3 linked regions of the Homo sapiens genome follow. The protein of the gene in region 1 purifies or fractionates together with the protein of each later gene. This does not show direct contact. Each region holds a gene or a part of one and is shown on either strand. Other genes may lie near its edges. The genes, in order: KIF6, FEZ2 and SNX16.

What was found.
Region 2: the proteins of KIF6 (region 1) and FEZ2 purify together in Homo sapiens (affinity purification with mass spectrometry; 3 studies listed by BioGRID and IntAct, with this or other methods). This does not show direct contact.
Region 3: the proteins of KIF6 (region 1) and SNX16 purify together in Homo sapiens (affinity purification with mass spectrometry; 3 studies listed by BioGRID and IntAct, with this or other methods). This does not show direct contact.

The regions. Positions count from the first base shown.
Region 1 is NC_000006.12:39,724,035-39,727,783, forward strand, and holds the start of KIF6 (kinesin-like protein KIF6), read right to left. Parts: upstream 1,375-3,749; 5' UTR 1,277-1,374; coding exon 1,211-1,276; intron 1-1,210.
Region 2 is NC_000002.12:36,596,122-36,599,870, forward strand, and holds the start of FEZ2 (fasciculation and elongation protein zeta-2), read right to left. Parts: upstream 2,048-3,749; 5' UTR 2,022-2,047; coding exon 1,756-2,021; intron 1-1,755. UniProt on the Homo sapiens protein: Involved in axonal outgrowth and fasciculation.
Region 3 is NC_000008.11:81,840,770-81,844,518, reverse strand, and holds the start of SNX16 (sorting nexin-16), read left to right. Parts: upstream 1-2,333; 5' UTR 2,334-2,397; exon of another isoform or gene 2,398-2,981; intron 2,982-3,749. UniProt on the Homo sapiens protein: May be involved in several stages of intracellular trafficking. Plays a role in protein transport from early to late endosomes. Plays a role in protein transport to the lysosome. Promotes degradation of EGFR after EGF signaling.

The sequences.
Region 1 (3,749 bases):
GGTTCTTGTGAGAATGAGAGATAATGCAGATAAAGCACCTGTCAGGTGGCCATTTCTCAAGATACATAAGAATGACTATGCTCCCTTCTAGGCAGAAGAGAGGATGTTTTGAAATATTTAAGAAGCATAAAAAGTGCTGGGCGCGGTGGCTCACGCCTGTAATCCCAGCACTTTGGGAGGCCGAGGCGGGCGGATCACAAGATCAGGAGGAGATCGAGACCATCCTAGCTAACAGGGTGAAACCCGGTCTCTTCTAAAACCACAAAAAATTAACCGGGCGTGGTGGCGGGCACCTGTAGTCCCAGCTACTTGAGAGGTTGAGGCAGGAGAATGGCGTGAATCCAAGAGGCAGAGCTTGCAGTGAGCCGAGATCGCGCCACTGCACTTCAGTCTGGGTGGCAGAGCGAGACTCCGTCTCAAAAAAAAAAAAAAAAAAAAAAGGTGCATACAAAGTATCATTGCTCAGAGTCAGGGCAATGTCTTAACCTTCTTTATACCTTTCTGAATTTAGCACACTAGAGGAAGCACCTGGTAAATATTTAGTTAATTGTTTCTGAATGAAGTACACATGCGTATTCTTTGGGTCAGGATGCTTAAGCATCTACCTATATCTATTAATACAAGGAGTATATGTAAAGGTTCACGTTTATGTTGGAGAATAACAACAGTCAACTAATTACTGAGGCCCCACTGGGTGCAAAGTACTACATATGTGTATGCTTTGTGCATTTGTGTCTATCTATATTTGTATTATTTCAGAGGTACATAAACACGCATCTCTTGCTTGCACGTTTTGCCCGAGTGCCAAAATGTACCTTTGAGTGTATCTGCATGTGCGGTGCTGCGTGAGTTTCCCAGAAAGGTGCAATAAGTGCTTATGTGTAGTTGAAGCGCACACTATACAGGCATACTGAACATGCACTAGTCTGCCCCCGCGTGAACACGTGTGCCTGGGTGCAAAAAAAATGGCTCTCTGCCGGGTCTGCGCTGTGCCAGGTAGGAGTGGCCTGGCTGTCGGTCGCGTAGCTGACAGCAGTGCGCGGGGGTCTTCGCGGCTGCAGGGCTCCTCGGTCAGTGTGTGCGGGATTCCGGGCGGCCTCGGCGCCCACCAGCAAGCCCCTCACCTCCGCCCAGCCCCTTCGCGTGCCGCCGCCCGACCCCAGCCCAAGAGGCCCCGCCGCGCCGGCGCCCCGGAGGCTCCAGCCCGTACCCCTTGTTGGTGCTTCCGGACAGGGGGCTTCACCCTCGCGAATATCTGGATAGTCTGCTTCACCATCTCCTCCCTGGCTCTGCAATGACCCTTGACCTCTCTCAGGCCCGGGCTGCCAAAACTAACTCCCACCACCTCCGGCGACCCACAGTCTTAGCAACAGTAGCTAGGGACACTACCCAGTGAGCACCTTGGCAGCCAGGATCCCGCCTCCTCCCTCTAATTGGTCGCGACCGGAAGGAGGCCACTACGGGGCGGGGCTAGGGAGGGGAGGGCGGGGGTGGAGAGGAGAGCGCTGCGCATGCGCATGAGCGAGTGTCTGGGCTCTGGGTTTAGCGCCGGACCCGGCCTGGACCGTGTGGTTAAAGGGGAACAACCACCATGCCTTGCCCCGCCCCGCTCATTCACCCATTTTATTCTCCATGCCCTTGCCTTTAAAAAAAAATACAGCACTGGGCCGGGCGTGGTGGCTCATGCTTGTAATCCCAGCAGTTTTTGGGAAGCCGAGGTGGTAGGATCGCTTAGAGCCCAGGAATTTGAGACCAGCCTGGGCAGCATAGTGAGACTCCGTCTCTACAAAAAATACAAAAGTTAGCCAAGCGTGGTGGCGCGCCTGTATCCCAGCTACTCGGGAGGTTGAGGCAGGAGGATCGCTTGAGCCCGGGAGGTCGAAGCTGTAGTGAGCCAAGATTGCAGAACTGCTCCAGCCCACTTGGAGATCACAGTCTGAAGAAGGAGACAGATTTTTTTTTTCCTTCACAAGGTCTCTCAAGTGACAAGGAGACAGATTTTCAACAGGAAATCAAAACCAAGGAATACAAACTATGCCATGATGGAATTAGAAGTGGGGCTAGCTCTGTTTTGGAAAAGGATAAAACTGGATGAAGGGGACTGTTTCCCACACAATGGTCACGGCAAGAAAGGATGAGCTCTTCAAACACTGTTAGCACATGAAAAGATAGTCAACATTATTATCCACGTGGGAAATATAAGTTAAAACCACAATGAGGCATCACTATTCATCTATCAGAATGGCTTAAAAAAAAAAAAAAAAAAAAAAAGTGGCAACACCAGATGCTAGCAAAGATGTGGAGAAACTGAATCAGTTGCACTTTACTGGTAGGAATGTATAATGTAAAACATACACTGTATAAAGGTACAGCCACTCTGGAAAATAGTTTGACAGTTTCTTACAAAACTAAAGGTGCAACTACTCTAAGACACAGCAATTGCACTCTTGGGCATTTATCTCAGATGAATGAAAACGTGTGTTCACACAAAAACCTGCGCATGTGTGTTTATAGTTTTAGCACCTTTATTTGTAATAGCCCCAAACTGGAAAAAAAACCCAGATGTTCTTCAGCTGATAGTTTAAAATAACTGGAATACCATTCAGCAATTAAGAAGGAAGGAAGTGTTGATACACGTAACAAATTGGTTGAATTTTCGGGGAATTATGTTTCATGAAAGAAGCCAGACTCGAAAGCTAACTACCGTATGGTTCTATTACTATTGCCAGGGAGGTGTGCAGGGTATGGTTATAAAAGAAATCCTTGTGATGGGCTGTTCTGTATCTTGACTGTGATGGTGATCACAGAAATCTACACATGTGATAGCATTGCATAGAACAAATTACACACATGTTCAAATAAGCACATGTAAAACTGGCAAAAGTCACATAAAATTGAATAAGATTGATGGATTGTATCAATGTCAATTCCCTGATTTTTATATTGTACTATAGTTATGCAAAACATTACCACTGGGGAAAACTGGGAGATGGGTATACGAGTTCTCTCTGTATTATTTTTTACAAAACAAAAAGTTTATTAAAGACACCCTTTTTTCTTTCTTTCTTTTTTGAGACAAGGTCTTGCTCTGTACCCCAGGCTGGAGTGCAGTGGCATGAACACGGCTCACTGCAGCCTCAACCTCCTGGGCTCAAGCGATTCTCCTGCCTCAGCCCCACAAGTAGCTGGGCTTATAGACATGTGCCATCACACTCAGCTAATTTTTGTATTTTTTGCAGAGACAGGATTTCATCATCTTGCCCAGGCTGGTCTTGAACTCCTGAGGTCAAGCAATCCACCCACCTCAGCCTCCCAAAGTGCAGGGATTACAGCCATGAACCACTGCACCCAGCTGAAAGACACTTAAGAAAACAAAAAGACTAACTACAGATTGGGAGAAAACTTTTGCAAAACACGTATCTTGATAAAGGACTTGCATCCAGAATATATACAAACTGTTAAAACCTAATAATAGAAAAACAAACAATTCATTTGTTTAAGGTGAAGGGAGGGTGCAAAGATTTGAACAAACGCTTCACCAAAGAGGATCTATGGATGGCAAATAAGCACATGAAAAATATGCTCAATATCATTAATCATTAATGAAATGAAATTAAAACCACAATGAGATACCACTACACATCTCTTAGAATGGCGAAAAATAAGAAAATAAAACTGACAAAACTAAGTGCCGACATGGATGCAGAGCATCTAGAACTCTCAAACATCACTGATGAGAAAACAAGATG
Region 2 (3,749 bases), on another chromosome or scaffold:
GACGGCATGCATGTGTGTATAAAATCCAATTATAAGTGTTTCCCTTCTCTACACCTGGGCAGAACACTGTACTGAGGAACCAATAAAAGGAGATGGTCTCCAAACACAGGTGGGCCTGCACCACTGCTCAGCCATGTTTACAGGCCCCACTCCCAAGGCTGTCTTTACAAGCTTCCTACCTTATTCCTGATAAATCTGTTTGTTTCACAAAGGAAAGGAGACAATCAGGCTGGAAACTCCTTTCCGTGCCCGTGACTCCTGTCCTGTCTCTCAAAAATTCTTCCCTAACCTCTAAGAGTCTCTCCATCCCATCAATGCTCTGAAAATCCATTCCTTCCCATGTCCTCATTTTTGAGACAAAGTCTCGCTCTGACACCCAGGCTGGAGTGCAGTTGTGCGATGATGGCTCACTGCAACCTTCGCCTCCAGGACTCAAGCAATCCTGCCATCTCAGCCTCCGGGCAGCTGGGTCCGTGGGACCACGGGCATGCGCCACCGGACTTCACTAATTTTTTTTTAATTTTTTTGTAAAGACCAGATTTCACGATATTGCCCAGTCTGGTCTCGAACTGCTGGAAGCAAGCCATCCTCCCACCACAGCCTCTCAAAGTGCTGGGATCACAGGTGTGAGCCACCGCGCCCAATCTTATTCCACTCATTTTACCTTCAGCCTCTCCGGAGGCTCCTCTCCCCCTATATACACAACATGCTCAAGTCCCTTTACTCTCACCATTCCTATTTACCATCTTTTGGGGGTAAAACCATGGTACCTAATTACAACTCTTACTTAACCAAATTATAATTGCGGCTCAGGTGGTTTAAAAAGTGCCCTCAGGAACTCTGCGCCTCACCTCTCCCAGCTGTGATAAAACCCCGTGAACCTCCTATCATTGCTCTTAGGTGATTCTGTAATTATTAATATTACTTGTGTATGCCTTGGTCTCCCCACCAGACCATGCGATCGTTACCATCAGTAAGCAGGGCCCTTCGTTTTCGTCTCTGTGGCGGCTCGCACTCTACCAGGGCTCCCGGGTGGGTCCCACAGATTCCTGTGCCCTAAATGCTGCCTCGCACGTTGGTACTTATGCACAGGCAATATACTCCACCTAGAACGTTAGACTTTTTTCCACCTGCCAGGCACACTCCCACTCATCAGTCAGATCTCGTTTGCACATTTCTTTATAAAGTCGTTCCTTACTCTCCCCAAGACACACGCTTTTAAGTCTCTCACATTTGGTACATATAACCATTGCAGCGCTAATTACATCCATACATGTATTTGTTTACAAATCTATCTCCCATCCTACGTTGTGTCCTAAGTGGGAGGGACAGTGCCCAGTCGTTTTGGTGTTCCCTGTGCGAAGCAGCGCCTGGCACTCAGCAGGTGCTTAATAAATGCGACTTGAGTGAATGAATGGCGACACACGTGCCCCAGGAGGTGCCCCAGGAGGTGCCGTCTCTAACTATGGGCTCTGCATGGGCGATTCCCTTCTAATACAAACGAGGGTTTGGTTTGCAGGAAGGAGGGCGGGAGGTACCGAGGCGGAGGTTTTCAGGGCTCGTGGCGGCGGGGGGCAGGGGATTTAAATTGCTGGGCGAGCCGAGGCCGACGGCCGGAGGAAGGAGGCGAGAGGGCGGGGACTCCCGCGTCCGGGCGGAAGGAGGGCGCAGGGAGGAGCTGCGGCCGTAGGGCTGCCGGTCGGGCGAGGGGTAGGGGAGGCTCCCGCCCACTCCCGGCCGGGGCCCCGCACTCACTCGTCCCCCTGCAGGAGGCTGCGCTCCGTGATGGGCCGCACGGCCGTCCTCGGGGGCTCGGCGCCCGGATCCGAGGGGCGGAAGCACAGGCTCAGCTTCTCCTCCAAGCTGCAGGCCGGGGCCGGGAAACCGTCGGCGCCCCCACCCGCCTCGGCCCCCGCCTCCGCCCCAGGCTCGGGGCTCGCGTTACAGTTCTCCTGGTCCAGGAGGCTCCGGGCCGGCTCCTGGAACTCATAGAAATCCTGCCAGTCCCCGTCCGCCGCCATCGCCGCCCGGAGCAGTCGCGCGCCCCGCCCAGGCCGGCCCAGCCCGCCCAGCCCGGCCCCGCCCCGGCCCGAAGCCCCGCCCCCGCCCGCTACCGTGCTGACAGATCCCAGGCTGTCCCAACCCTGGGTCTCCGGTGGCCTGAGTCTTCCTGGAGTTGAACGCGGTGCTACTAGAAAGCCAAGACCTTAACTGCCTTGAGTCACTTCCTATATTCTCTATCATTTAGGAATAACTTCCCTGTTAGCTTCCCTTATTAGCAACTTGGCCTAAATGTGGCTAAAATAAAGGACTTCTTTAAACTTACGACCTAATATCAGATTACGCCCCGAAAGTCGTTTTCCCCAAGGTAACCTGCTCCTTTCCTAACTTGCCAACCAGAATAACAGCCAGAGTCAATGGGAAATGTTTAGGTGGTACCGAAGTTCATTCCTCAAATATTTTACCTCTCACGTGCAAAGCACTGGCTAGATCCTGCAGAACATACAAAGATAATTATGCCAGTTAACATTTGCAAAGCACTTAGAGCAATGCCTAATAGTAGATACCCTATGTGTATGTTATAACTAATACATGGGTGCCCCATACACAGGGCTTACAATGTCGGAGTGATAAGAGTAACAAGAAATTGTTTAGACCTCATAAAAACTAAGTGTGATTGGGCGGTTCAGTTTTGCAAGATGAAAAGAGTTATGGAGATGGATGGTGGTGATGGTTCCACGACAGTGTTAATGTGCTGAATGCCACTGATCTATACACTTACAGATGGTTAAGATAGTAATTTTATGTTTATTTTACTACAATACAAAAAAATTGGAGTAGGCCAGGCGAGGTGGCTCACATCTATAATCCCAGCACTTTGGCAGGCCCAGGTGGACGGATCGCTTGAGGTCAGGAGTTCAAGACCAACCTGGCCAACATGGTAAAACCCCGTCTCTACTAAAAATACAAAATCTAGCTGTCAGGCCTCTGAGCCCAAGCCAAGCCATCGCATCCCGTGACTTGCACATATACACCCAGATGGCCTGAAGTAACTGAAGATCCACAAAAGAAGTAAAAATAGCCTTAAGGATGACATTCCACCATTGTGATTTGTTCCTGCCCCACCCTAACTGATCAATGTACTTTGTAATCTCCCCCACCCTTAAGAAGTTTCTTTGTAATTCTCCCCACCCTTGAGAATGTACTTTGTGAGATCCACCCCTGCCCGCAAAACATTGCTCTTAACTTCACCGCCTGACCCAAAACCTGTAAGAACTAATGATAATCCATCTCCCTTCGCTGACTCTCTTTTCGGACTCAGCCCGCCTGCATCCAGGTGAAATAAACAGCCGTGTTGCTCACACAAAGCCTGTTTGGTGGTCTCTTCACACGGACGCACATGAAATTTGGTGCCGTGACTCGGATCGGGGGACCTCCCTTGGGAGATCAATCCCCCTGTCCTCCTGCTCTTTGCTCCATGAGAAAGATCCACCTACGACCTCAGGTCCTCAGACCGACCAGCCCAAAAAACATCTCACCAATTTCAAATCCAGTAAGCGGCCTCTTTTTACTGTCTTCTCCAGCTTCCCTCACTATCCCTCAACCTCTTTCTCCTTTCAATCTTGGCGCCGCACTTCAATCTCTCCCTTCTCTTAATTTCAGTTCCTTTCATTTTCTGGTAGAGACAAGGGAGACACGTTTTATCCGTGGACCCAAAACTCCGGCGCCGGTCACGGGCTGGGAAGGCA
Region 3 (3,749 bases), on another chromosome or scaffold:
AGAGAGTGGCCCTGGCCAGAAACCTGCAGTTGCCTCCATGCTTAGGCACTGTCCATCAAGGATCCCAGCTTGGAAAGGAAAAGGGAGAGAGAGAAAGAGGAAAAAGAAAAATACAAATCCCAAACTTTGGGCTTACCTTCTGGCTGGCTCACCAAAATATGTTACCAATTGAGGGTAGTTGTCCAGGTTCTTGGTGTTTTGAACGAAGAATTGGACAGAACACACAAACAAGGCATGGAAAGCAGAGATTTATTTTAAATGAAAGTATACTCCACAGAAGGAAAACAGACTCAGTCAAGGGGTTCAAGAGCATCAGCTACAGAATTTTCTGGGGCTTAAATACCCTCTAGAGGGTTCCCATTGGCCTATGCCCAGTCTGATTGGTTGTGGAAGGAGACCAATCAGAGTGAAAAGTAGGCCCTCAACCAGTCTGATTGGTTGAGGGAGGGGCTCTATCAGAGGTTCTTTCATTTTTCAACTGCCACCCAAAGAAAGGAGGGTTGCAACTGCCACGCAGCAACTGCCACGCAGAAAAAAGAGGGGTTGAAAATGGAGTCGCCTCTGATATCAGTCAGCATGAATCAGCCTTAGGTCCCCTGTTTCCAGACCCTATTCTCCTACCTAACATTGTTTCTACAGAATTCTATTTTTATTTCATTCACACTAAAAGGGCAGAATCTCTTAAACCAAAACCATCATCATGTCACAAACCAGACTATTTTCCAACCTTCATTTCAAAATGACCACTATCACCTTTTCTCACTCTTAGTCGGGCAGTAGAATAGGGTCCGGAGGCAGGGAACCTAAGGCCCATTCACGCTGACTTCCTAGAACTAAATCAAAAGGAAAACTCCAACTTTCCAAGCCCAAGTAACAAAAAGACCAGAGGCTATTCCCTTTGCAACCCCCTGCCCAACCTTCTAGGCCCTTGGTATCTGGGCCTAGTCTTCATTTCCATAGGAGTACAACTTTGTAACTTAACTTTAGCCTCTGATTGGTTGCAGGCTACTCCTTAATTTACAGAGGGTGTAAACCAAGTAACCAATGGGAAATCTCTAGCGGATATTTAAACTCCAGAAAATCCTGTAACCAGGGCTCTTGAGCCACTGGCTGGAGGCCATTCCCACTCTGTGGAGTGTACAGTCATTTCAATCTCTGCTTTCCTTGCTTCATTCTTTCCTTGCTTTCTTTGTGCGTTTTGTCCAATTCTTTGTTAAAAAAACCAAGAACCTGGATGACTTGTAGTCAAGACCCTCCATGGGTAACATTGGGACTATACAAAAGCCTTAGAAATCGTGGAATGATTTTTCAACCACATTATCTGATTCTAATGATGAACAGACCTGTAGACCGGTCTGAATCTTGGGATTTGCCTATCAAAAAACTCGGCTTTCCCTACTGCACAGGTCTTCAGAAGCGCATGTCTAACAAGGCTAATATTCCATCATCGGGATCAAATTGCTCACCGGATAGTAAAAAGACACTACAGAATTTCAGGGGTTCTCTGCCAATGAGAACTTCTGAATTATGTAGAACGGATCAGCTACTAAGCAGTGTTCTATCTTCCTACTCTTCTAATCGATTGTCATCCCTTAAAGCGCTGCTAATTCTAGAAAACAATCTATAACCTGTTAGAATCAGCGCAAGCTGGTGATGACTACAAGTCCCATGATGCAAAGTATGAGCACGGACCAATGTTGGTCGCAGTTCCTTCTGGGAATTGTAGTCTTCTCCTGTTTGGCAAACTAGGTATTGTAGCCTCCATTTCTCAGAAGTTCAGTTGGAAAACTAAAGATAGTGCAGAGAATGTCGATTTCCTGCCACAAGATTACATTTATCTTCGCTACCTGAGCGCCCAGCCGATCAACTCCAGTCGCTCCTCCGGTGGGCGGGCGCCCATGCCGTGACATCACTTCCGGCAGAGATGTGTGTGTGACGCTCTCTCTCTCTCTCTCTCGCTCTCGCTCTCTCCCTCGCTCGTTTTCTTTCTCTTTCTCTCTCTCTCTCTCTCTCTCTCTCTCTCTCTCTCTCTCTCTCTCTCTCTCTCTCTGTCTCTCGCTCTTGCCCTCTCTCTCTCTCTTTCTCTCTGTCTCTGTCTCTCTCTCTCTCTCTCTCTCTCTCTCTCTCTCTCTCTCCCTCCCTCCCTCCCTCCCTCCCTCTCTCTCTCTCTCTCTCCCCCCCCCCCCCCCCCCGCCCAGTTCGGCCCCTCCTTCCACACAGCAGGGATCTTGGGCCCGGGCAGAGACTGGCTGAGGCGGGGAGCAGCTGCTTTTGGGGCGGGGGTGTCACGTGAGGCTTCTCGCTGCTGAGGGAGGAGGCGAAAAGCTGCGGTTAAGGAGAGTCCGGTTTAACCGTCACCGGGAAGCGCGCTCGTTCGGGATCGCCGAGGGGGCTGAGGTAAAGACTGGGTCATTACCTCAGGACAGGCGGTCGCTGTCCCGGGTTCTCGTACGGGTGACACCTGCAACCTTGATGTCTGGCGGGCGGCAAGGGGCTCCGCGGGAGAGTGGAGAGGCGCCGCAGGAAGCCCAGCCACCTTCAGGCCACCGCCGACCCCACTGTGCGTCTGGGAGGCGCTGGGCGCGCACCGGTCAGCGGAGGCGGGAGAGTCTGTGATCCCAGGGAGCTGCGGGTCTCGCCGCCTGCAGTGCGGAAGACCCGTGACCGGCGCAGACCCCGGCCTTACCTTCCGAGGGTCGAACTGTGCCTGGTATTTGCCTCTTTCCTCCCGCCCACGGGGTTGCTCAGAGTCGGGCCACCTCACCTGAGGTTTTCCAGAGTGAGAATGAACTGAGCGTCCTGGGAGCAACTCCGCATCAGGGTAGAGGCGAAGACGCTCCTAATGAGCACAGCACGTTTTTTTGTTTGTTTGTTTGCTTGTTTTGTTTTTTTAACGCTTGGGTAGCGCTCACATCTTCGGACGTCAGTGGTTGTGTTGATATGTATTGATATGCGACCTCCCCCCAGCCAGGCGGCCTCAGGTAGTAGAGTGGCAAAGGCCAGGTAGATCCCTCGGACCTTGAGAAGGTTGAGATTTCAGACTTACTTGTTTTTGGGGAGGCCGTCAGGCGGAACCGAGGAGCGGTGAATCAGCAGCTAAAGTTTCATGAATCTTTGATAATGGGGAAATGTTGCCGAGAGCCACTTGAGTTAAAAATCTTTTTTTTTTTTTTTTTTGAGACGGAGTTTTCCTCTTGTAGCCCAGGCTGGAGTGCAATGGCACGATCTCGGCAAACTGCAACCTCCGCCTCCCGGGTTCAAGCGATTCTCCTGCCTCAGCCTCCCAAGTAGCTGGGATTATAGGCCTGCGCCACCATGCCCGGCTAATTTTTGTATTTTTAGTAGAGACGGGGTTTCACCATGTTGGCCAGGCTAGCCTCGAACTCCTGACCTCAGGCGATCCACCCGCTTCATCCTCCCAAAGTGCTGGGATTACAGGCGTGAGCCACAGCGCCCAGCCCAGAGTTAAAAATCTTATTTCAGCATCTTTCCAAGTCCAGGTGACTCATTTCTTACCTTTCCCACCAGTAGAGTTTCGTATGAAAAGTTGGGCAGTTATTGTTGTGTGTAGTCTTGTCATTTTGTTGGTCTGTAGTTGTTACAGTTTCTTATGAGTTTATTATTTAACAAAGTAATAGTAAACCATTTCTTCTTTGTGTTATGATACTATTCTGACACAAGATATACTGGTCCGTTTGATAACAGATTCTTGAGTGTAAGTTATAAAGATTTAAATACCCTCAGTTTAT